Linked DNA regions of Homo sapiens. The protein of the gene in region 2 interacts with the protein of the main gene of each other region in a biochemical or structural test. Each region holds a gene or a part of one and is shown on either strand. Other genes may lie near its edges.

Region 1 (7,604 bases), on a different chromosome or scaffold from region 2:
AGGCTGAGGCGGGCGGATCACAAGGTCAGGAGTTTGAGACCAGCCTGGCCAAGGTGGTGAAACCCGTCTCTAGTAAAAATACAAAAATTAGCTGGGCATGGTGGCGTGCACCTGTAGTCCCAGCTACTCAGGAGGCTGAGGCAGAAGAATCGCTTGAACCCAGGAGAGATCACACCACTGCACTCCAGCCCAGGCGACAGAGCGAGACTCCGTCTCAAAAAAAGAGAGAAAGTCTTTAAGCGTTCTTACTAGGAAAGTAAAATAATAGTATAGCTGTAGCTGCTGATTGGTTTTGAAACTTTCTAGGCAAAATCTAGAGGCAGGGCGCGGTGGCTTACACCTGTAATCCCAGAACTTTGGAAGGCCGAGGTGGGCGGATCATGAGGTCAGGAGTTCGAGACCAGCTTGGCCAACATGGTGAAACCCTGTCTCTACTAAGAATACAAAAATTAGCTGGGCGTGGTGGCGCATGCCACTCGGGAGCCTGAGGCAAGAGAATCGTTGGAACCCGGGAGGCAGAAGCTGCAGTAGGCAGAAGCTGCAGTGAGCCGAGATTGCACCACTGCATTCTAACCTGGGCGGCAAAGCAAGACTCTATCTCAAAAAAAAAAAAAAAAAAAAAAATATATATATATATATATATATATATATATAGAGAGAGAGAGAGAGAGAGAGAGAGAGAGAGAGAGAGAGAGAACAATGTTAATGTTAACTTGACATTTCTTGGTATCGGAGCCTTAAGTTTTTGTTATTGCTTTTTTTTGTTTTAAGAGACAGAGCCTCCCTCTGTCCCCCAGGCTGAAGTGCAGTGGTATAACCTTGGTTTACTGCACCCTCAACTTCCTAGGCTCAAATGATTCCCCTACCTCATCCGCCCCAGGGGCTACGTGGAACCACAGGCATGCATCACTAAGCCTAGCTGATGGTTTTTTTGTTTGTTTGTTTTGTTTTTTTTAATTTTATTTTTTTTGAGACAGAGTTTCGCTCTTGTTGCCCAGGCTGGAGTGCAATGGCGCAATCTCGGCTCACCGCAACCTCCGCCTCCCAGGTTCAAGCAATTCTTCTGCCTCAGCCTCCCCCGTAGCTGGGATTATGGTCATGTACCACCACGCCCGGCTAATTTTGTATTTTTAGTAGAGACAGGGTTTCTCCATGTTGAGGCTGGTCTCGAACTCCTGACCTCAGGTGATCCGTCCACCTCAGTCTCCCAAAGTGCTGGGATTACAGGCGTGAGCCACTGCGCCAGGCCTTTTTTATTTTTATTTTTTAACGTTTTGTAGAGATGGGATCTCACTATGTTGCCCAAGCTGGTCTCTAACTCTTGGTCTCAAGAGATCCACCAGCCTTGGCCTCCCAAAGTGCTGGGATTATAAGCATGAGCTACTGTGCCCGGCCTCCCTTAAGTTCTTAAGAGCTCACTGTCATGCTGTCTTGTTCTCTCTTCATGAGATTCTCCCCCCACACTTCAGTGTTTCCTTCCCAGCCCTTTTACCCCCAAGACTGTTTGCCTGCCTTATGTAGCTCACAAGAGCCCTGACAGAACATCTCTCATTCATTCCCCGCAAAACTGTTTCCAGCCTCCTTGCTCTGACTTTGCAGCACTCGCCAGCCTGGCCCTGCCTTCCATTTGACTTCCAGTGTCCGTATCAATTCCCATCAGCAGAAACAAAGGAGCTGCCGCACTCAACCTTGTTTATCCAATTTTATTCTGTGTGGTGAAGACGTGGCTGCCTCCTAAAGGCGAGCCCACAGAGGCAAGGCTGCCTTCTCCATTCTGCTCTCCAACGTGAGATTCGTGCCTACCTCAGATTACAGTCATTACAGCTCATTGAATCACGCCAGGCTATATTTGTGGCATTGCCGTCTCTGTGTGTCGTATGTGTCTTTTTTACTTGCTGGGCACATGCTAAGTTATGCAGTGGTCTATTGTGGCTGCTCACTGAAGGACCCTGTCACATTCTAGAGCAGGGTTTGTTGGTGTAGCCCGAGTTACGGACAGAAACCACAGAGACTTAATCTGTTTGCTGTCTCATCCCCAGGCTGTTTCTTGTAAAATCCTGATATGTCAAAGCTCATTTGGTCCAACCTCCTCAATCTATAGAAGAGTAACCAAGGTCCACCTGGGCTGACTAAGTGTCCATGTTCGTGTGACTTGCAGGCAAGCCAGGTCTTTTTACTCTCAAGTCAAGTCTGACTGTATCTCAGACATCGTCATGAGTATTAGGGATACTATGAGAAATAAATCAATTCTGCCCTTGGTTTAAGATTGATTGACGCCAGGTACTGTGACACATGCCTCTATTCCCAGATACTTGGGAGGCTAAGGCAGGAGGATCACTTGAGCCAGGAGTTTGTGTCCAGCTTGGGCAACATAGTGAGACCTTGTCTCTTAAAAAAAAAAAAAAACAAGATTGATTGAATATAAGATCGAGTTTGTTAACCTCCATTACCAAAGTCCTTGTTAAACCCTGCAAGATGAGAACAAGATAGGTTCTATATACACGCTTCTTAGAACCAGATAACTCCTGGCACTGTGCAGTTTTCCAGTTTTCCACTTAAAGATTTACCCTTGATTCAGATTTCAAATTGAGTCTTTTGAGACCAAGAAGATTTTTTCCTATATAATTTTATTTTGTGAGAATGGAGAAGAACCCTAAGATGGGCCTTAGAGCAAACAAGTTTCTTATGAGTGATGGTGCTCAATAAAAGCTTCAAGGAACTTCAGGTACTTGTAGACATCTTCCATAAATGTAAAATTAATTAGTTGATTAAAAACCTAGTTCAAAATTCAAAAGATATAAAAAGGCATATGGAAGGAAGTGGCCTAGTCACCCACTTTTTCTCCCCGCTGACCTGCAGTTTCTTTTCCATTTTGTTACATAAATGATAGTTTTATTTGACGCTTCTCAGCAGTGTACCTTGCTTTGCTTTTTGTCCCTAGTTAACTTGAAATTGTTTAATATCAGTATGTGAAGAGCTTCCTTCTTATGGCTAAGTAGAATTTCATTGTATGGATTTACCATAGTTTGCTAAATACATTTTAATAAGTCCCCTAGACTTTGAACTCTTTCCCTCTGGAGCAGACCTTGGGGCAAGGATGTGGGAGCATGTAGTTTATTTGGGAGGTGATTCTAGGAAAGAGGGAATAAGGAGGAACTTAGGAGGGACTATCATCTGCTTCTTAGCCTCATAAGGGTTAAGAGAAATAGCATCTTAACTAGCACAGGGGTGGGCTTGTGAGACACGTGGAGTGAACATTCTTTCACCTCTTTGGGGGTTAAACTTAAGTCTGATTAGACATATGATGAAATCATGTGTTCCTGATGGTAATTTATTTGTAAAGTAATTCCTCATGATGGCCTAGAAAAGGGGCTTCGTGTCCCATGAGGCAGAAGTGGAGGCAAATAGAACGGAAGAGACAGCCACCCAGTCCCTTGAGCCTTCTAGAGAAGCAGATGGCAGGGGAGAGGAATAGCTCAGCACCCTATGCCCCCCGCTCCAACATACACGCCTGATTTCTATCTTCCCTGCAGCCTTGGGGAGCAGTACTACAAAGATGCCATGGAGCAGTGCCACAATTACAATGCTCGCCTCTGTGCTGAGCGCAGCGTGCGCCTGCCTTTCTTGGACTCACAGACCGGAGTAGCCCAGAGCAATTGTTACATCTGGATGGAAAAGCGACACCGGGGTCCAGGTGAGGGTCCAGACTTGGGAGAAGGGGACTCAGGAGCATAAGGAGGAAGAAGCCTCCTCATCTTAGGTGATGAGACAGTTGATAGGGTTTTCCCTACTGCCTTCCACCTATGGATGAATATGGTCTTCCTGTGATTAGAAACCCAGGGAGGATGAAGCAGATGTTTGATACCAGCATCTTTGTTTTCTGCCCTGCTGAGGCCATTGTGTGTCTGGAGAACTATGTGTTAGCCAAGGCCCTGAAGCTTATATATCTATTTTTCTTTTCCACAGACTATTCCACCTAACCCCCTAGGCCCTCACTGTCAGAATTTCTCCCTTGCTCTAGAACTCAAAGGGGGGCCTACTTAATTAGAAAGTGTTTGGTATTACTTTCTAATACTGGGTTAGGGCCTGACTTCTATCTTTCTTCCTGCCACAGGATTGGCCTCCGGACAGCTGTACTCCTACCCTGCCCGGCGCTGGCGGAAAAAGCGGCGAGCCCATCCCCCTGAGGATCCACGACTTTCCTTCCCATCTATTAAGCCAGGTAAGGCACATACTTCCTGAGCAGAGGCGTGGCCTGCTGCATGGTGAGAGCCTGCTAATCACTGTGATATACCAGGCCCAGTACTAGATCCCAAATATACTCAAATGAATATGATGTGATTCTTTCCTTTAAGGACCTCAGTCTAGAAGGGGAGACAGGTAAACAGATAAGTTATGGTGCCAAGTGAACTAGGGTGTCTTAATTCCTGGGCGTGCAGAGAACAAAAGATAGTGACAGACCTTTGGTAAGCCCCAGCATTATGTGGACTCAGAGCAGTCTGCTTTCAGCCCTTTTGAGCCTTGCTTTATCCTGACCTTGCTTGCAGACACAGACCAGACCCTGAAGAAGGAGGGGCTGATCTCTCAGGATGGCAGTAGTTTAGAGGCTCTGTTGCGCACTGACCCCCTGGAGAAGCGAGGTGCCCCGGATCCCCGAGTTGATGATGACAGCCTGGGCGAGTTTCCTGTGACCAACAGTCGAGCGCGAAAGGTACAGGATTATCCCTGTGGCTAAGGGAGCTTTGATGGAAATCAGCCTCCTCTTCACTGGGGGCCACCTAGTTTCTAGAACTGAAACAGAAGCTGGAGTCCAGGAAGCAGGCCCCTGCAGTTCTGTTCTTACTTCAGTCCCTGATTATTGTCAGGTACTGACTGGCTTCTCTGTTGCTTCTAACTATAGACTCTCATTCATTCACTTTTATCACAGAAGGTTATTATTATACACATATATAATTTTCATTAAAAAAATTAAAATAGGCCAGATGCAGTGGCTCATGCCTGTAATCCCAGCACTTTGGGAGGCCAAGGCAGGAGGATTGCTCAAGTCCAGGAGTTCGAGACCAGCCTGGGCAACAAAGTGAGACCCCATCTCTACAAAAAAATAATAATTAAAAAAAAATAGCCAGGCATAGCAGCATGCGCCTGTTGTCCCAGCTACTAGGGAAGCTGAGGTGGGAGAATCACTTGAGCCTATGAGTTCGAGACTGCAATGAGTCATGATCATGCCACTGCACTCCAGCCTGGGCAACAAAAAAAAAAAATTAAAACCAGAAGGTGCAAGAATAGTACAATGAAATACCACATACTCTTTACCTAGATTTATCAATTCCACATTTTGCCACATTTGCCTTATCTGTCTTTGCTAAACTATTTGAGAGGAAACTTCAAAAACTTTTCAGTCTAGGCAACATAGCAGGACCTTGTCTCTACTAAAAATAAAAATAAAAAATTAGCTGGGCATGGTGGCACACGCCTGCAGTCCCAGCTACTCAGGAGGCTGAGGTGGGAGGATTGCTTGAGCCCAGGAGATTGAAGCTGTAGCTCTGCTTATGCCTCTGCACTCCAGCCTGGGTAACAGAGGGAGACCCTGTCTGGGAAGGGAGGGAAACAAACTTTTATCCCTAAGTGCTTTACTCTTTTATCACAAAAGTTTGTGTCACAGTTTTTTGGTCCCTGAGGTTACACAGTGAAGCACACTTAGTCTCTGCCAACAGAGAAGATAAGAATACATGTAAAAATAACAGCTATAAATATGCCAGCATTGGGTTAAGTGCCTTTTCATGCCCTTTCTCCTTTAGTCTGTACAACCTTATGGGGTAGGTCCTGTGTTCCCCATTTCACACAGAGGCTGAAACAAAGCAGTTTAAAAACTTCCCATGGGTCGGGCACGGTAGCTCACGCCTGTAATCCCAGCACTTTGGGAGGCCGAGGCAGGCGGATCTTGAGGTCAGGAGATCGAGACCATCCTGGCTAACATGGTGAAACCCCGTCTCTACTAAAAATACAAAAAAAATTAGCCAGGCGTGGTGGTGGGCACCTGCAGTCCCAGCTACTCAGGCGCAAACCCGGGAGGCAGAGCTTGCAGTGAGCCGAGATTGCGCCACTGCACTCCAGCCTAGGTGACAGAACGAGACTCCATCTCAAAAAAAAAAAAAAAACTTCCCATGGCCGGCCACGGTGGCTGACGCCTGTAATCCCAGCACTTTGGGAGGCCGAGGCAGTTGGATCACCTGAGGTCGGGAGTTCGAGACCAGCCTGACCAAGATGAAGAAACCCCGTCTCTACTAAAAATCCAAAATTAATCAGGTGTGGTGGCGCATGCCTGTAATTCCACCTACTTGGGAGGCTGAGGCAGGAGGATCGCTTGAACCCAGGAGACGGAGGTTGCGGTAAGCCAGTATTGCGCCATTGCACTCCAGCCTGGGCAACAAGAGCGAAACTCTGTCTCAAAAAAAAAAAAAAAAAAAAAAAGCTTCCCACAAGGTCACACAAATAAGCAACAACATTTTAATTTAAACTAGGAGGCGAGTGTCAGGACAGAACCACCAATAATGTGCTCCCAGGGTGGCCAATCAGAGGCAGGAGAGGGCATGGCTGCTTGTGGCATCAGGGCAACCTTTTGGAAGCATGCTATTTGATTTGGCCATGTGGCATGGTGGGGAAAGCATTTCAGGCTAAGGAAATAACGTGAAGCACAGGGGAAAGATATCCCAAAGTATGGAAGGGAGCAGGAGCAGGATTATAGCATGCTTGAAAGGCGTTGGTGAGGAATGAGGCTGGTGTGGGTGGGACCACGTCACAGAGGAGGTTCTGGGTGGCCTTGGCCAGTCTCATCATAGGGGAGCTTTTGGATGCACATATTTCTACCCATGCTAACCCTCCTGTCCACTCAGCGGATCCTAGAACCAGATGACTTCCTGGATGACCTCGATGATGAAGACTATGAAGAAGATACTCCCAAGCGTCGGGGAAAGGGGAAATCCAAGGTGAGGGGCCAGCGTGCTGCCTGCATCTTGGGACAGGGTGGCCTAGGGAATTCCTTATTTTATTTCAAGTGAGATTAGCGGCCACTTCCAAAAGAGTCTAACTCCTCAGGCCCAGCTACCAAAATAAGGGTGTCTCTTTGCTCTTCTTGGCAGGGTAAGGGTGTGGGCAGTGCCCGTAAGAAGCTGGATGCTTCCATCCTGGAGGACCGGGATAAGCCCTATGCCTGTGACAGTGAGTGCCTCACAAGTGGGTGGGTAGACCTTGCCTTGGACCCAGCTCCTGCTCTGGATATGAGAGGAGGGAGGGTTGTGTTTTTGCCCAGAGTATTAAAACAAACCTGGGCTCTTGTCCTGCCTGCTGACTGCTTCCGTCTGAGACCCCTGGGAGGCCTGGGTCCCTGCTATATGACGGGTGGGACCTGCATGCTCTGGGAAAGATTTCTGCCATCCTCTGGGGTAGGGTTGCTTGTGGGGGCCACAGCAGGCAGGGTTGGCCTCTCAACAGATGGCCTGCAGGTCTCCTGGCCTCAGTTAAGCCAGGGCCCCAGGGGTCTGACACTGAGTTTTTCAACGTCTGTTCTCTTTTTCTTTCTGTCTGCCTTGCCCCACTTCTGTCCC
Region 2 (8,208 bases):
AAAATAAAGTTTAAAAGGGTTAGTGGATGTAAAATTAATATATAAAGGTCAGTCATATTTCCATATCTCAGCAGCAAATAACTGGAAAACATCATTAAAACAAATATTGTCAGGAGATATGAAGTATGTAGAAACAAATCAAAGAAATGATAAGATTTCTTTAGGGAAAATTATAAAATTTTATTATGAGATCTTAGAGAATACTTAAATAAATGGAGAGGTATTCCGTGTTCTCTAATAGTAATATTGTAAAAATGTCATTTTCCCAGGCCGGGCGTGGTAGCTCACACCTGTAATCCCAGCACTTTGGGAGGCCGAGGCGGGCGGATCACAAGGTCAAGAGGTTGAGACCATCCTGGCCAAGATGATGAAACCCCATCTCTACTTAAAATACAAAATTAGCTGGGCGTGGTGGCACAGGCCTGTAGTCCCAGCTACTCGGGAGGCTGAGGCAGGAGAATCACTTGAACCCGGGAGGCGGAGGTTGCAGTGAGCTGAGATCGTGCCACTGCACTCCAGCCTGGGCAAAGAGCAAGACTGTCTCAAAAAAAAAAAAAAAAAAAAAAAAAGTCATTTTCCCCCAATTGATAAGTAGATTCAATGCAACTCCATATTAAATGTGATAATTCTAAACAGGAACAGAATATAGAAAAAGAACAATGAGGAGAAATTGACCTCATCAGATAGAAGTATTAATACTAATTAAGGCAGTGTCATATTGGGATAAGAATAGATAGATTGACTCATTGGAGTAGAATTGAGAGCCCAGAAGAGACTCCAATCACCTGTGACCCTGAACTGGAATAATTGGGTAAATCATTATCTTAACTTGTTTTTATTAATCTTTCTTAAATGTATGTATAGCTCAGATTTATTTCAATATTTAATATTGCAAGCGTTTTGGTCTTATAAATTTAGTGATGTTTTTGTGACCCATAGTCTGCCGTAGAAACTTAACTCTTATTAATATTGATTAGCCTATGGTAAAATTGGTTTTATTATGGTGTTGTTTCGCTTGAAGTTGCAATTTCCAAGAACCTATAGACATCATCCTAGAAGACATTAAGTGAAGACTTACTGTGTATATAAGCAGATTTGAAATTAAAAATATAAAAGATCTTCTGAAGTTGCAACAGTGCTCAGAAGTATTATAAAATAGAAATAAATCATTTCCAAAAGAGAGATTTCATTTTTGCCCAAAATCTTTCTTCTAAGCTATAAAAGACAAAACTGTTCAATACACAGTTTTGTCAATTTAAATCTACATATTCACCCAATTTTTATAAGATAAAATAAAAATGTATAATTATTGAAAAAAGAATTGAGAGCCCAGAAACAGAGCTAAGGAAATATGCGACTTTAGTGTATGACAGAGGTGGCATGTCATATCAAGAGGAAAGGAGGAAATGTTTGAGAAATGAAGCTTGAAAAAAAAATAGTTATTTAATTAAGTCGGATTCCCTACCTCACATCATATACAAATATCAGCTGAAGATGGATTAAAGGCTTTAAAAGTGAATCAACATTTTAAAAACTTTTGGTAGACTATGTTGGTAAACATTTTAATCCTTGAGGTATAAAAAGACAAGACACAAAGTGTTTTCTATAAAACTTTTGATAAATTTGATTATATTCTTAATTTCAATTTATTATATTTTTCAGTTCTAGAATTTGATTCCTTTTTTTCAGTTTCAAGTTCTCCAGTAAACTCTCAATCTTAATTCCTTGAATATATTAAGTATAGTTACTTTAAATTATATGTCTGAAAACTTCATTATTTGGATCCTTTGTGGTATGTTTTTATTGCCTGTTGCTTTCTTTTAAAAAAAAATTTTTTATTTTGCCTCCTCATATGTGTGGTTATTTAAGATAAAATACCAGTCATTTTCTGTGAAAAAGAGTAAAGATTTTAGGCCTACAATATTATCTCCCTGCAGAAAATTTTCTTCTGGCTAGTGGCCGGGTACACTAGCAATCCCAGGTCACCTAAAATCAGTGAATGATTTAGGTTATTTGAAGTTGGGCTTTCATCCCTGAAATCTGATATGTTTCCAGTTCACCCTTACTCCTAGGGTATAGCTCTTTCAGACCTCAAATCCCCCAAAGCCTTGGGTATTTATCAGATCCCACATCCTTGGCAAACTCTCAACTCCTTTATTTTTTCCCTATAGTTTATTGAGAGTTCATCTCAATCTTCTTAACCATCTCTTAGAAAATTGTCAGGCTATATTCAGATAAAAGTGGCCTCTCATTCTGAACTGTGGGTTTTCTTCTCTCATATCTTGGTCGCATGGTTTTTCATGACCTTGTTAGCTCTCTAATGTCATTAGAGAAATTTTGTTTCATATTTTGTCCACTTTATTCTCATGGTTGAATTGGTCCAGTTTACAGATTATCATCTATCATTACCAAAGTAGAACTTCTTTTTATTAACGTTTACTTTATGCTTTCTTCAGTAACTTGTAAAAGTATCTAAATGTTTGGTTGTTCAATAGGACTTTAAGTAATTCTTCAGTCATTTATGTTAATTGAGAAAATGTATAATAAATATCACTACTAGGTTCAACACCTAGTGGAGATACATCAGACATCCCTTCTGACTTCATTTGAAACTTTGTCTAATAGGATAGAAGAGGCATACATAAATGATTATCATGTAAGATTTTAAAACTTTTAAGGGCATAAGAAAGGTATAGGTCAAGTCTTGCACTGATTTAGAGAGGAGAAATATTCCCTCCATTGCAGAGGATGAAGTTAGGCTTTATAGAAAAGAAGCTTTGAGCTGGGGTTTCAGCCTTACACTGAATCTTGCATTGGGTAAAAACGGGTATCTGTCATGATTCTTGCCTGTCAGTAGTTTTTAACCATGTTGTGCAGAGATGAAAGTAATTCTGATGCAGTAGTAATTGTATTTCCACACATTGAGAAGATTCAAAGCAAAATCTCATAAACAGTGATTTTTTTTGAGAAGTAAGTAGAATTTCTTCCCTGTAGTAGAACTATTATGTGACTAAATGTTTTTGAACTTTGGCTTATTGACCAGTTTGTTTATTTTTCTTTTATGTGCCATTTAAAAATATTTAAAATAAACTTTTATTGAGATACAATAAAATCTACCCGAATATGTCCTGCTACATAACCACAATCAAGCTATGGAACATTTCCATCACCCCCTAAAATTTCCCTGGTCCCCTTCTCGCTCAGTTCCCTACCCTGCCTCTGCCTCAGGCAATTACTAATCTGCCTTCTGTCACTGGAGATTAATCTTTTCTAAAACTGCATGTAAATGGAAGCATACAGTATACTTTTGTATCTGGTTTCTTTTGCTCAACATGGTTTTGAGATACATTCATTTGGGAGTGTATACCCATAGCTTGTTTTTTTGTTTTTTTTTTTTTTTTGAGATGGAGTCTTGCTCTGTCGCCCAGGCTGGAGTGCAGTGGCACAATTTCGGCTCACTGCAAGCTCTGCCTCTCGGGTTCACCATTCTCCTGCCTCAGCCTCCCAAGTAGCTGGGATTATAGGCGCCCGCCACCACGCCTGGCTAATTTTTTGTATTTTTAGTAGAGGCGGGGTTTCACCGTGTTAGCCAGGATGGTCTCGATCTCCCAACCTCATGATCCACCCACCTCGGCCTCCCAAAGTGCTGGGATTACAGGTGTGAGCCACCACGCCTGGCCAGTTTGTTCTCTTTTATTGCTGAGTTTATTCCATTGTAGGTCTATACCACACTTTGTTTATCCATTCACAGAGTTCACATAGGTTTGTTTTTAAACTTACCAGGAACATCTAGCTACAAATTTATCTTTTTTGCATATTGATTACTCATCTTTGCAATTGAGAGACACTAATATCTTGAATGCTACATTTATAATGCTGTAAAAATGGATTTTGAAGAGGTAGCTCTCATATTGCCTACACAATAGTGCCAGTAGAGTATGCTGCTGTAACACAAGTGTTGGTATCATAACATTTTGACCTTTCAGTTGTACAGAGTACAGATGTGTTTTTATGCACTGTTTCAAAGATTAAGCATAAGAATGCTAATACTGGGATACTTATAAATGTTGTGATAGCTAAGTAGACTCTCAATGTCATTAAATAAAAACAGTACAAAATACATTATCAGTTTTATTAGTTATTGCCTGTAAAATAAGGAATTTGGGCTTAACTATGTTTCTAAATTTAGTGTTTCAAAATTTAATACTTTGCAAAGTAAAATTGTTATGTAAATAATGTGCATGTCTTGCTTTTTAAAAATATGACTTATTGCTATAGCTTATGGCATTTGAAAAGGCAATATTTTCTTTTGGAACTGGATTTCTGGTTCAAATACTAATTTAACAAACTATTATACTATATTCTATCATGAGCTTTTCTAGTTTTATAGAACTGTAAAATTTTTAATTAAAACATTTTTTAAGTTTGCACGTAAAATTTCTTATGGAAACTAGCTATCTTAACATTTTTTTGTTTCTTGGTATTTCATCCTTAAAATGTTGATCCACATTTAGTAGATACTCTTGTGTATGTCATTTTTATGTACAACACATGTACAATTTTCTAATAGATTTCAATTTTTAAAAGCATAGGCTCTAAATTTAATGACTTGAGTTCACATTTCCACCCTGTCACTGTGAAACTTTGGGCAAGTAATTCATCTCTTTACAGTCAGTTCCAGGCCAGGCTCAGTGGCTCACGCCCATAATCCCAACACTTTGGGAGGCCAAGGTGGGTGGATCACTTGAGCCTGGGAGTTTGAGACCACCCTGGGCAACATAGTGAAACCCCATCTCTACAAAAAAATAGAAAAATTAGCTGGGCGTGGTGGCATGTGCCTGTAGTCCCAGCTACTCAGGAGGCTGAGATGGGAAGATCACTTGAGCCTGGGAGGCGGAGGTTGAGGTGAACCAAAATCGCATCACTGCACTCCAGCCTGGGCAACAGAGTGAGACCCCCATGTCAAAAAAACGAACTAAACTCAGTTCCTCGTTTGTAAAATGGGGATGAAAGTAATTCTTGTACAGATTTAGGAGATAATTTACAGAGTCCTTAACACAACAACTGGACCAAATACATACTTGTTGAATGAATGGGTAAATGCCATTCTTTGTTGTGTACAAACCTGCAACTATTTTTTAAAACTTTGATTTGTTATTAATGTCAACTTGGGATTTTGCTTTAAATCCCAGGTGAGGGGATAGTTACTTCCTGAACATGGCTATAATTTATCAAATACTGTTAGATAGTGATTACTTGATAAGAATGATAAAAGGCATTCTTGAGATTGTATACTGTTCTATTTTTATTCATACATATTTGGATGCTATTCAAGGTTATTGGCTATAATGGGCAGGGAGGAGGACCTAGCAAGTCTTTAGGTCTATGTGACTATTACATTTAAAAAATTTTTTTTTTCTATTCAGTCCCTGAAAAACAGCTGAATGATATTGAAGATTGTGACCTCAATGTGGTGAGACTGTGTTTTCAAGTTTTTCTCCCTGATGAACATGGTAATTTGACGACTGCTCTTCCTCCTGTTGTCTCGAACCCAATTTATGACAACCGTAAGTACTTCATTTTCTTATATTTGTAGTCTTAACTTGTTTTTTGTAATAGTTTAATTCTTAAAATTATTTTGGTAATTAGGAAAACAATATATTCATGATAGGAAAACTTCCAGACATTAGAGAAATATATAACAGAAAGGAAATCTTCTCTAATCTCATCCTCCAGAGATAATCACTATCCTTAGGTGCATATTTTACCAGTTTCTTCTTCCTGTATATACACAGATACATTGTCATCATCATCATTTTTGACACAGTACAATTTTGGCAACTTAAAATCATAAGTGATGATTGTTTTAAAAACTAACTTTCTTCTTACCATATATCTTGGACATTTTCCTTTTAATCACCTTATTCTTTTCAGTAGCAGCATATTTTATTATGTAGTTATATCATAATTTTATTAATTACCCTCTTACAAGGCATTTGGTTTGTTTCTTTTCTCATTTTTTCTTTTTGGCCTAGCAAACTGTACTGCAATACATATTCTTGTATATTTTTTTTTATTGGTTTTTTTTTTTTTTTTGGAGACAGGGTCTCACTCTGTCACCCAGGCTGGAGTGCAGTGGTGCAGTCATGGCTCACTGCATGGCAAATGCTGGCTCAAAGGATATGGATATATCTCATTTTGAAAGATTATGAAACTTTCCCCCAAAATACTGTGTGTGTGTGTGTGTGTGTGTGTGTGTGTGTGTACGTGTGTGTGTGTGTACATAGACTTAGATATACGTCCACCAATGGTGTATGATATACCTGTTTTATGTGTAGAAGGATAGAGAGACTTAGGGCTATAAAGGAAGCATGAAAGTTGTATTGCCATAGGGAGATGTATTGCCATAGGGAAAATTGTATTGCCATGGGGATGTGGTCATGATTTATGAAGATTAATCTGGTGACAGTGGGTAGGATTGATTGGCGGAATCAGAATTTAGAAGCAGGGAGATGTAATTAGAGAATATGTCATTACCTAGAAATGAAGCCACAAAGTCTAAAGTAAAGCAGTTAGAAAGGAAGTGGACAGATAAATAGATGATTAATGTATTTAGTGTCATTTATCTATACACTAAAACTTTTATTCTGTGAATGCTTTTCCTCAAATTCTTCCCTGCAAAAAGAAATAAAATATTACTAAGGTAGCAACTCATTTTTTTGAAAATCCTTTATATTTAGGTGCTCCAAATACTGCAGAATTAAGGATTTGTCGTGTAAACAAGAATTGTGGAAGTGTCAGAGGAGGAGATGAAATATTTCTACTTTGTGACAAAGTTCAGAAAGGTATTTATTTATTTCATTGAATTTAGAATAAATTTTAGATTAATAGATGCAGTTACTTTGTTTTCCCATTTTTTTTTTTTTGGTTTCTTATTGACTAGATGACATAGAAGTTCGTTTTGTGTTGAACGATTGGGAAGCAAAAGGCATCTTTTCACAAGCTGATGTACACCGTCAAGTAGCCATTGTTTTCAAAACTCCACCATATTGCAAAGCTATCACAGAACCCGTAACAGTAAAAATGCAGTTGCGGAGACCTTCTGACCAGGAAGTTAGTGAATCTATGGATTTTAGATATCTGCCAGATGAAAAAGGTATGACATTTTGCTGGTAATAATTTATATATTTCTTGAAGTGGTCCTGCTAATAACATCTTCTTGTAATATTCATTTGAGTACAGTTATGTATATTCATAATTTATGTTTCTTTTCCTGGAAGCTTTCTGTTGGTTTTTTCTTTATGCTCTTTGCATCTCTTTATTTGTTGGGTTGTTTTTTGTTTTGTTTTGTTTTGTTTTTGAGACAGAGTCTCACTGTCACCCAGGCTAGAGTGCAGTGGCGCAATCTTAGCTCACTGTAACCTCCTCCTCCCGGGTTCAAGCGATTCTTCTGCCTCAGCCTCCTGAGTAGCTGGGACTATAGGCACGTGCCACCACGCTGGGCTACTACTTTTGTATTTTTAGTAGAGACAGGGTTTCACCATGTTGGCTAGGCTGGTCTCTGCATCTCTTTCTTCAAGAAGAGGTTTGATTAGTATGGAATAATTTCAAAGTATCTAAACTGCTTACTAAAATTTCTATTTTATTTTTGAAGGTCTGTTTTAGTCTTTGTGCACTTACCACTCAGAGAGTAGTCTCTATATTGGTTTCTTATCAAACCTTATTGCATTAGTTGACATTATTGACTTGTGTGATAAGAAAACAAGATGAATATTTTAAACAGCTTGTTTTGGGTTTTTTTTGAGACAGGGTCTCACTCTGTCACTCAAGCTGGAGTACAGTGGCATGATCGTGGCTCACCAGAGCCTCAGCCTCCTGGGCTCAGGTGATCATCCCACCTCAGCCTCGTGAGTACCTGGGACTATAGGTGCGCACCACCACACTTGGCTAATTTTTGTGGGGTTTTTTTGTTTTTTTGTTTTTTTGTTTTTGAGATGGAGTCTTGCTCTGTCTTGCCCAGGCTGGAGTACAGTGGCGCAATCCTGGCTCACTGCAGCTTCTGCCTCCTGGGTTCAAGCAATTCTCCTGTCTCAGCCTCCCAGGTAGCTGGGACTACAGGCATGCGCCACCACACCCGACTCATTTTGTATTTTTAGTAGAGATGGGGTTTCACCATGTTGGCCAGGCTGGTCTCAAACTCCTGACCTC
Region 3 (7,679 bases), on a different chromosome or scaffold from region 2:
TTTTGCCATGTTGGCCAGGCTGGTCTTGAACTCCTGACCTCAGGTGATCCACCCTCCTAGGCCTCCCAAAGTGCTAGGATTACAGGCATGACCCACCTTGCCTGCCTGTGTTTTTTTTTTTTAAGAGATGGGGTCTCATTGTGTTGTCCAGGCTGGTGTCAAAACTCCCGGACTCAAATTATCCTCCCACCTTGACCTCAAAAAGTGCTGGGATTTTAGGTGTGAATCACTGCACCCAGCCATGACAGTAATTTTTAAAAGCAATCCTTAATTTTTGTTTGTTATTAGTTAGGTGATAAAAATCAGAAGAAAGAAAGAAAGGTCAGGGTGGAATCTGTGTGGTGTGAGGGATCTGGCTGAAATTCCCATGCACTTACAGAGGCCCTTCATGGTCTGGGGTGGACATGAGCTCCCATCTGTTGCAAGGTGCTACTCTGATCAGGCCTTTTCGGAGGAACATTTCAACTTCACATTTCAGAGCAGCCAGGCAGGAGCTTACCTAGGCTCAGTAGGCTGCGTGGAGTCTATGGTAAAGTGGAGAGCCTCTTCTATGGCCACCATCAGCTCCAGGTTATAATGCTTTTGTGGGTACCTAGGCCCAGTGTTACCAAAAATTCTGATTTTTTTGAGAGAGGTCAGATATTCAGATTTTTTTTTTTTTTTGAAAAGGAGTCTCACTCCGTAGCTCAGGCCGGAGTACAGTGGCCCCATTTAGGCTCACTGCAACCTCTGCCTCCCAGGTTCAAGTGATTCTCCTGCCTCAGCCTCTCGTGTAGCTGGGATTACAGATGTGTGCCACTATGCCCGGCTACTTTTTTATTTTTTTAGTAGAGATGGCGTTTCACCATGTTGGCCAGGCTGGTCTTGAACTCCTGACCTCAAGTGATCCATCCACCTTAGCTTCCCAAAGTGCTGGGATTACAGACATGAGCCACCACGCCCGGCCAGACATTCAGATTTTTATGTAAACTCTTATGATTTTTAAATGTTATAAGGTCCAAATAAAACACCTCTATGAGACAGTTTTTGATTTTGACTTTATCCCTAGCAATACTTTTGGCTCTGGAACCTGCAGTAATCCAATAGTGTGGGTAGAGGTCTCCTCCTGACTCCCTGTGGTGACAAAGGACATGAAGATGGGCCATCCCAAGCAGACAGAGAAGCTGTGACACTAACACTGGTGTGCAATGACCCAGGAGTTGGGAGAAGTTGAAGAGAGGGCAGCCTATTTGAAGGGAAGCTAAGGACTGCGTTCTTCCCAGACACCCTCCCCTATAGATGTGACAGAGAGCAGTTGTCCCTGCTGAGGGATGTCACCCCTGCATGTGTCTAAACTAGGGGGCGCAAATGAAAGGGTCTTTAGAGGGCAGGTGGGAATGAAATCCCAGAGCTTTGGCTGTAATATTATGGTGCTCAGACAAAACATGACCCCAGGCATCATTTGTGGTCCCTAAAACCCTTCTGGAACCTATTTATCTGTTTGACCTGTTCTTCCTCTTGGGCTAACACGTTCCATATGTTTAAGTACCTGTTGTAAAGAGTAAATTAGTGGAGGGAGGGGAGACCTCTTTAAAACTATTGGGGGCTGGGTGCAGTGGCTCAGGCCTTTAATCCCAGCACTTTGGGAGGCCGAGGTGAGAGAATCGCTTGAGCCCAGAAGTTTGAGACCAGCCTGGGCAACATAGGGAGACCTTATCTCTATATGACAAAAAATACACACTATATTTTATTCACTATACACACAAAATACACACTATATTTTACTGATCACTTGCACATATTTTATTTCAGTATTTTTCAAGCTTTTGGATTGTGACTCACAGTAAGAAATGCAGTTAATATTGTCATCCATTACACACATACACTGAATTATGAGAAATTGACAATATCCCACCTTCTTGACCTATAAAATGGCAATTTTGTAGGGTTCAACCTATATATAATGCAAACAAACATTTTATGCAACAATATTTGCCCTTGCTTTTTGTGATACCCATTAATTTATTCTTTTAAATGTTGATTGTAGTATACTGAATTGATATCACTACCACTACCAGTAATGACTAGGTTACAATCAACTGCTTTATTTAATCTCCATAATTTTTCGGGCAGGAATAATCACTGCCTCCCATCCCCTTAAACATGCCAAGATGCTTTATCCCTAGGATGAGGTGACTTACTCCAGGTAACTCCTATTGCCTAACCACTGACCAATTACTCTGCCCTTTAGTCTTTATGTCATTAAATCTGCATTAAGAATTTCATGGAATAGGCCCGGCATGGTGGCTCATGCCTGTAATCCCAGCACCTTGGGAGACCGAGGTGGGAGGATCACTTGAGGTCAGCAGTTCGAGACCAGCCTGGACAACATGGCGAAACCCCATCTCTACTAAAAACACAAAATAACTAGCCAGGTGTGGTGGTGGGCACCTGTAATCCCAGCTATTTGGGAAGCTGAGGCAGCAGGAGAATCGCTTGAACTGGGGAGGCAGAGGTTGCAGTGAGTCGAGATCGTGCCAGTGCACTCCAGCCTGGGCGACAGAGCGAGACTCTGTCTCAAAAAAAAAAAAAAAAAAAACTCAGGGAATGGATAGCAGCATTGATGAATATTGCGTCTGGAGAGATCAGATCACTTGTCACTTGTTTCCAGGCACAGGGCTTACCAAGAGGCAGATTCCAGATTTAAATAATTCTGTAACAGCAAAGTCCAAGCTATTTTCACTGCTTTGGAGAAAAGACCCAGACCCAGAGCTTGAACCTCACTTTGCAGCACCCCAGTTCTAATCTTTTAAGTTTTTTTTTTTTTTTTTTTTTTTTTCTGCTGGGCACGGTGGTTCATGCCTATAATCCCAGCACTTTGGGAAGCCGAGGGGGAAGGATCGCTTGAGGCCAGGAGTTCGAAACCAGTCTGGGCAACATGGCAAAACCCCATCTCTACAAAAAATACAAAAATTAGGCCAGAGTGGTGGCGCGCACCTGTAGTTCCAGCTACGTGAGAGGCGGAGGTGGGAGAATCGCTTGAACCCGGGAGGCAGAGGTTGCAATGAGCTCAGATCCCGCCACTGCACTCCAGGTTGGGCGACAGAGCGATACCCTGTGTGAAACTTTTTTTTTTTTCTCCAACGGGCTTTCCAGAGAAGTGTGTGTATGTGCGTGTGTGTGCGCGAGCGTGCTTGCTTGGGCTTAAACTTTCTGTCGGGCCACACTTTCCCAAGTCTTTGCACTGGCTGTAGGGTGGGCTTTATCCTCGGGACGTCCTCCTCCCCAAGTCCAGCCTGCAGCTGGAAGTCTTCACTGATCTCCATCTCTCCTCCCTGATCTCCGTCTCTCCTCCCTGCCCGCCTCAGGACTGGGAGGCCGATCTCTCTCTCTCGCCCTCCCCTCCACCAGCCTTTTCCAGATGTATGTCTGCCAAAGACCCCCCAGTGCAGAGGATGATGAATGAAGATCCTCGAGCCAGCCCGGTGGGAAAGTTTCGTCGCCTACAAAAGCGAGGGAAAGGGAAGGGAAGTTGGGGGTAGGGGAAAAGTTAGAGCTGAGAGGCTGGGGCGCGACGAGTCTGGACACCGGGCGGGGACCCAAGCTCTCTCCGCTCAGCCAATAACTGTGCCTCCCTTAGGAAGGCGTGAGGAAATGCTCCAATCAATCCCTGCACTCCTCCCTTGGAATTTGGGCTGTATTTTTTTATTTACTGCAAACCCCACAATCCACCCAGGGGTTTCCCCAGTGTTTGCCTCCAGCGGTCCCGGTGCCCATTTACTAGTGCTGCTCCCTCTCTTCCGCAAGACTGCGCTCCAGTCCCAGCCTCCTTCTCCGCGGGTGCCTCCCAAACCGTTCTATCATTCTCGGGTTCAGGGAGGCGGAATCGTGCCTGCTCTCCGGTTCCTTTAAGAGGCGTCGGCTCCACCCCTCTCAGAGTCGCGGTCTGACGCGAGATGACAGCAACGAGTTCGGTATGTCTATGCAAATAAGCGCCCTCTTGTGGGCCAATGGGGAGCGGAGGTGCCGGAACCACGGACCAATGGGGCGGGGGCGCTGGGGCTCACCATATAAGGAGCGGCCTCGCCATAAAAGGAAACATTGTATCTCTTTATATGGGGGGAAGGGTCGGGGGATCCCTCCGCCGCCAGCGCGTGGTCCCGGCCCCCTCCACCCGCCGTCTCGGCCGCGGCCAGCAGCCCCTGCCCCCCGGGGGACGCTGACGGCCGCCCGGCGCGCCGCCCTAGCAGACGGACAGGGGGCGCTGCGCGCGGCCTGGGGCAACCCGGGCCACAGGGGCAGGAAAGTGAGGGCCCAGGTCGGCCCGGGCGTGCAGGGGCCCCGGGTTCGCAGCGGCGGCCGCGGCAGCGATAGCGGCACTAGCAGCAGCGGGAGTGCCGGGTTGAGCCGGGAAGCCGATGGCGGCGGCTGCGGCGGCTCCGATTCCTCGCTGACTGCCCGTCCGCCCTCCTGCATCGAGCGCCATGTTACCGACCCAAGCTGGGGCCGCGGCGGCTCTGGGCCGGGGCTCGGCCCTGGGGGGCAGCCTGAACCGGACCCCGACGGGGCGGCCGGGCGGCGGCGGCGGGACACGCGGGGCTAACGGGGGCCGGGTCCCCGGGAATGGCGCGGGGCTCGGGCCCGGCCGCCTGGAGCGGGAGGCTGCGGCAGCGGCGGCAACCACCCCGGCGCCCACCGCGGGGGCCCTCTACAGCGGCAGCGAGGGCGACTCGGAGTCGGGCGAGGAGGAGGAGCTGGGCGCCGAGCGGCGCGGCCTGAAGCGGAGCCTGAGCGAGATGGAGATCGGTATGGTGGTCGGTGGGCCCGAGGCGTCGGCAGCGGCCACCGGGGGCTACGGGCCGGTGAGCGGCGCGGTGAGCGGGGCCAAGCCGGGTAAGAAGACCCGGGGCCGCGTGAAGATCAAGATGGAGTTCATCGACAACAAGCTGCGGCGCTACACGACCTTCAGCAAGAGGAAGACGGGCATCATGAAGAAGGTACCAAGCCGGGGGGCTGGCCGGCCCCGGGGCCCGGTTGGGGTGGGGATGTGCAAAGGGAGCCCGGGAGGACCGCAGAGCCGAGGCGGAGGTGAGAGGCTGCGAGTCCGCAGGAGGTGTGTGGGAGGGGATGGCTCCTGCCCGGGGAGGGCCGAAGGGGAGGGGCCGCCGGGGAAATGTGGGGAGAGGGGAGATCCCGCGAACGCTCGCAACCGTGGGGAAAGGCGCAGAGGTGGGAGTGACCGGCGCCAGAGAGGAAGAGGGCCCTTGCTGAGTGAAGGGGTGAGGAGCGGTGATGGGAGGCTACGAGGCTGCCGGGGAGGTGGATAATGAGAACCCGGGATCAGTAGGTCCAGTGCACTCCGGTGTTCGGACGAGGGCGCCGGAAAAGCAGGGAGCAAACGAGAAGGTATGGAGGTGAGGAGGCTGGAGCTGCATGACAACAATGAGCGAACATGTGTGGGAGGAAGTGGGCACCACGAGAGTAGTGCTGGTTGGAAGGACAGGCAGGGTTAGGGACCAGGTAAGGGAGCGGGGCAGGAGAACTGGTGCTGCCCTGAGCAGCAGGAACCTAGTCCTGCGCCGGCCGTGAGTCTTCCATGGCATCCACTGGGAACCACATGCTCCTGGCAGGACCCGCTGCAGAATCTCCTGCCGTTAGGACAAGTGGGGTTTCCAGCCCTAGGGAGAATCTATGCTTGGATGGGGTTTGGGGGAAGTCAGGGAGGCTTGCAGAGGTACCTAGGAATTCCTCTTCTGCCAGCCAGTGAAAAGTGTTGAGGAAAGGAGTCATTTTGGGGTGTAGACGATAAGGGAAGAGATGAAAGCAGAGGAACTGGGAGACAAGGAGCTGGATCCTTGGGAACACTGGCTGGTGTTTATTTCTGTCCCATGTAGAAACCAGAGCTGCTTCCAAGGTGGTTTGCAGAACTTTGTTGGGAGAGTATGGCATCTATGGGGCCATCCTTGAAGGTCCCCTTCCTGGGCTCATGGCAGGATGTTTAGTGCTAATCTAGGTCTCGTCTCCCATCACTCCAGACACTGTTGTATCAGTGTCCCTTGTCACTTGATCATCAGTGGAGAAGATTGTGGGGGGAGGTAATTAAGGAAAACTCTCTTCTCTCCTTCCATAACCTTCTTCCCAAGACAAAGGAGTAAGGGCAGTAAAGTATTACAGGGCAAAAGGAGAAACTAGGCTGTGGCAACAAGTTGGAGCCTGTGCAGTTTCTGGAAAGAAACATGGGACAGTTGGAGCTTAAATGGTCCATTATCACTAATGTCTTGTACAAATTCCAGTGTGATAGGTAGGGATCCATCCTGGTCCCTGTGACAGTGAGAAGGGGTGAGGCTCTGGGACATTCCAGGCACTAAGCTGTGTTGGGGAGCAGCTAGCTGGGTCCTTCGTATCCCCTGAAGTTATATGTTCCATCACTGGGGGCTGTTACTGTTTGCTTGGGGTATCTTCAGGTCAATGGGGCTGCTCCTCAAAGGAGGAGCATGGGTAGTTTTGCTGCTTCCAGAGATCCTGATAGGACACCCTGCCCTCAGAGTCATTAGAGACGAAGGTCATTATGGGAATGGGGGAATGACATCACTGTATAATTCTTTTTCCAACTTCTCAAGGAAGGTAGAGATAAAAAGTTTGCTGACCTGCCCATCTCCCTCCTCACCCCTCAGGCCTATGAGCTGTCCACGCTGACAGGGACACAGGTGCTGTTGCTGGTGGCCAGTGAGACAGGCCATGTGTATACCTTTGCCACCCGAAAACTGCAGCCCATGATCACCAGTGAGACCGGCAAGGCACTGATTCAGACCTGCCTCAACTCGCCAGACTCTCCACCCCGTTCAGACCCCACAACAGACCAGAGAATGAGTGCCACTGGCTTTGAAGAGACAGATCTCACCTACCAGGTGTCGGAGTCTGACAGCAGTGGGGAGACCAAGGTGTGTTTGGGTTGCCTATGTGAGAGGAGGGAAGGGAGTGGGGTCCCTCTCCCTTTCTGGCCCAGGACAGGTGGATAGGTGCCCACCGATGTGGAGTGGAGCCGGATTAACGACCCTCGTCCTAGGGGACAGGTGTCCATCCTCACTTTCCTGATAGAAGACCGCCCCCCTAGATAAGCGGGCGGCCTCCGTGCCCATATAAGGCCGGCTTGGGCTCCACGCCGGCCTCCCGCCCGCAGCCCGCCTGCCTGGCAGGGCCTTTGCATTCCTCCCGCCAGCTGTCTCCCCGCTAGGGGCGGGGGTGTAGTTTAGCCCGGCCCTCCGGGCTGGGTCGCCAGGGAGTAGAAAGGGAGCACTCCGGTCCCGGGGTCCTGGGAATCCAGCACTCTTGGCAGGCGGGCTGGTTGACTGGGCCGGGGACTACCTTACAAGCCAGCCGCTGCCCTTTCAGGGTGTTGGGGGCCTGGGCAGTTAGGGAGCGCATTTGCCTGCTGCTAGGGATGCCTGCGCTGTTACTCCTCCCCCTTCCTTTTCCCGGTAAGGAGAGGGGGTGGGGCTTCCTCCCTTGCTGTCTGGGGAGCTCCACCTTCCGGGTGGCACTTAACTGACTGGCCAATGGGAGGAAGCGGCACTGTTTGCCTTAGCAACGCCTCTGCCAATCAAGGGTCTTGGGCCCAGCTGCTTTGCAAACGTCTCGTGCTGACCCACCCCGCAGCCTTTGAGCCTCTGGTTGACTCATTTCGGGTCTGGGCTTGGTGG

Evidence for each region. Proteins that work in one complex are often made in the same cells at the same time.
Region 1: the proteins of REL (region 2) and DPF2 form a complex in vitro, tested with the Homo sapiens proteins (one study listed by BioGRID).
Region 3: the proteins of REL (region 2) and SRF form a complex in vitro, tested with the Homo sapiens proteins (one study listed by BioGRID).

The regions. Positions count from the first base shown.
Region 1 is NC_000011.10:65,336,852-65,344,455, forward strand, and holds part of DPF2 (zinc finger protein ubi-d4), read left to right. Parts: intron 1-3,533; coding exon 3,534-3,694; intron 3,695-4,114; coding exon 4,115-4,222; intron 4,223-4,547; coding exon 4,548-4,711; intron 4,712-6,893; coding exon 6,894-6,986; intron 6,987-7,139; coding exon 7,140-7,218; intron 7,219-7,604. UniProt on the Homo sapiens protein: Plays an active role in transcriptional regulation by binding modified histones H3 and H4. Is a negative regulator of myeloid differentiation of hematopoietic progenitor cells. Might also have a role in the development and maturation of lymphoid cells.
Region 2 is NC_000002.12:60,911,451-60,919,658, forward strand, and holds part of REL (proto-oncogene c-Rel), read left to right. Parts: intron 1-5,426; coding exon 5,427-5,567; intron 5,568-6,740; coding exon 6,741-6,845; intron 6,846-6,943; coding exon 6,944-7,156; intron 7,157-8,208. UniProt on the Homo sapiens protein: Proto-oncogene that may play a role in differentiation and lymphopoiesis.
Region 3 is NC_000006.12:43,167,194-43,174,872, forward strand, and holds the start of SRF (serum response factor), read left to right. Parts: upstream 1-4,075; 5' UTR 4,076-4,463; coding exon 4,464-4,976; intron 4,977-5,202; exon of another isoform or gene 5,203-5,271; coding exon of another isoform or gene 5,272-5,385; intron 5,386-6,653; coding exon 6,654-6,920; intron 6,921-7,679. UniProt on the Homo sapiens protein: SRF is a transcription factor that binds to the serum response element (SRE), a short sequence of dyad symmetry located 300 bp to the 5' of the site of transcription initiation of some genes (such as FOS).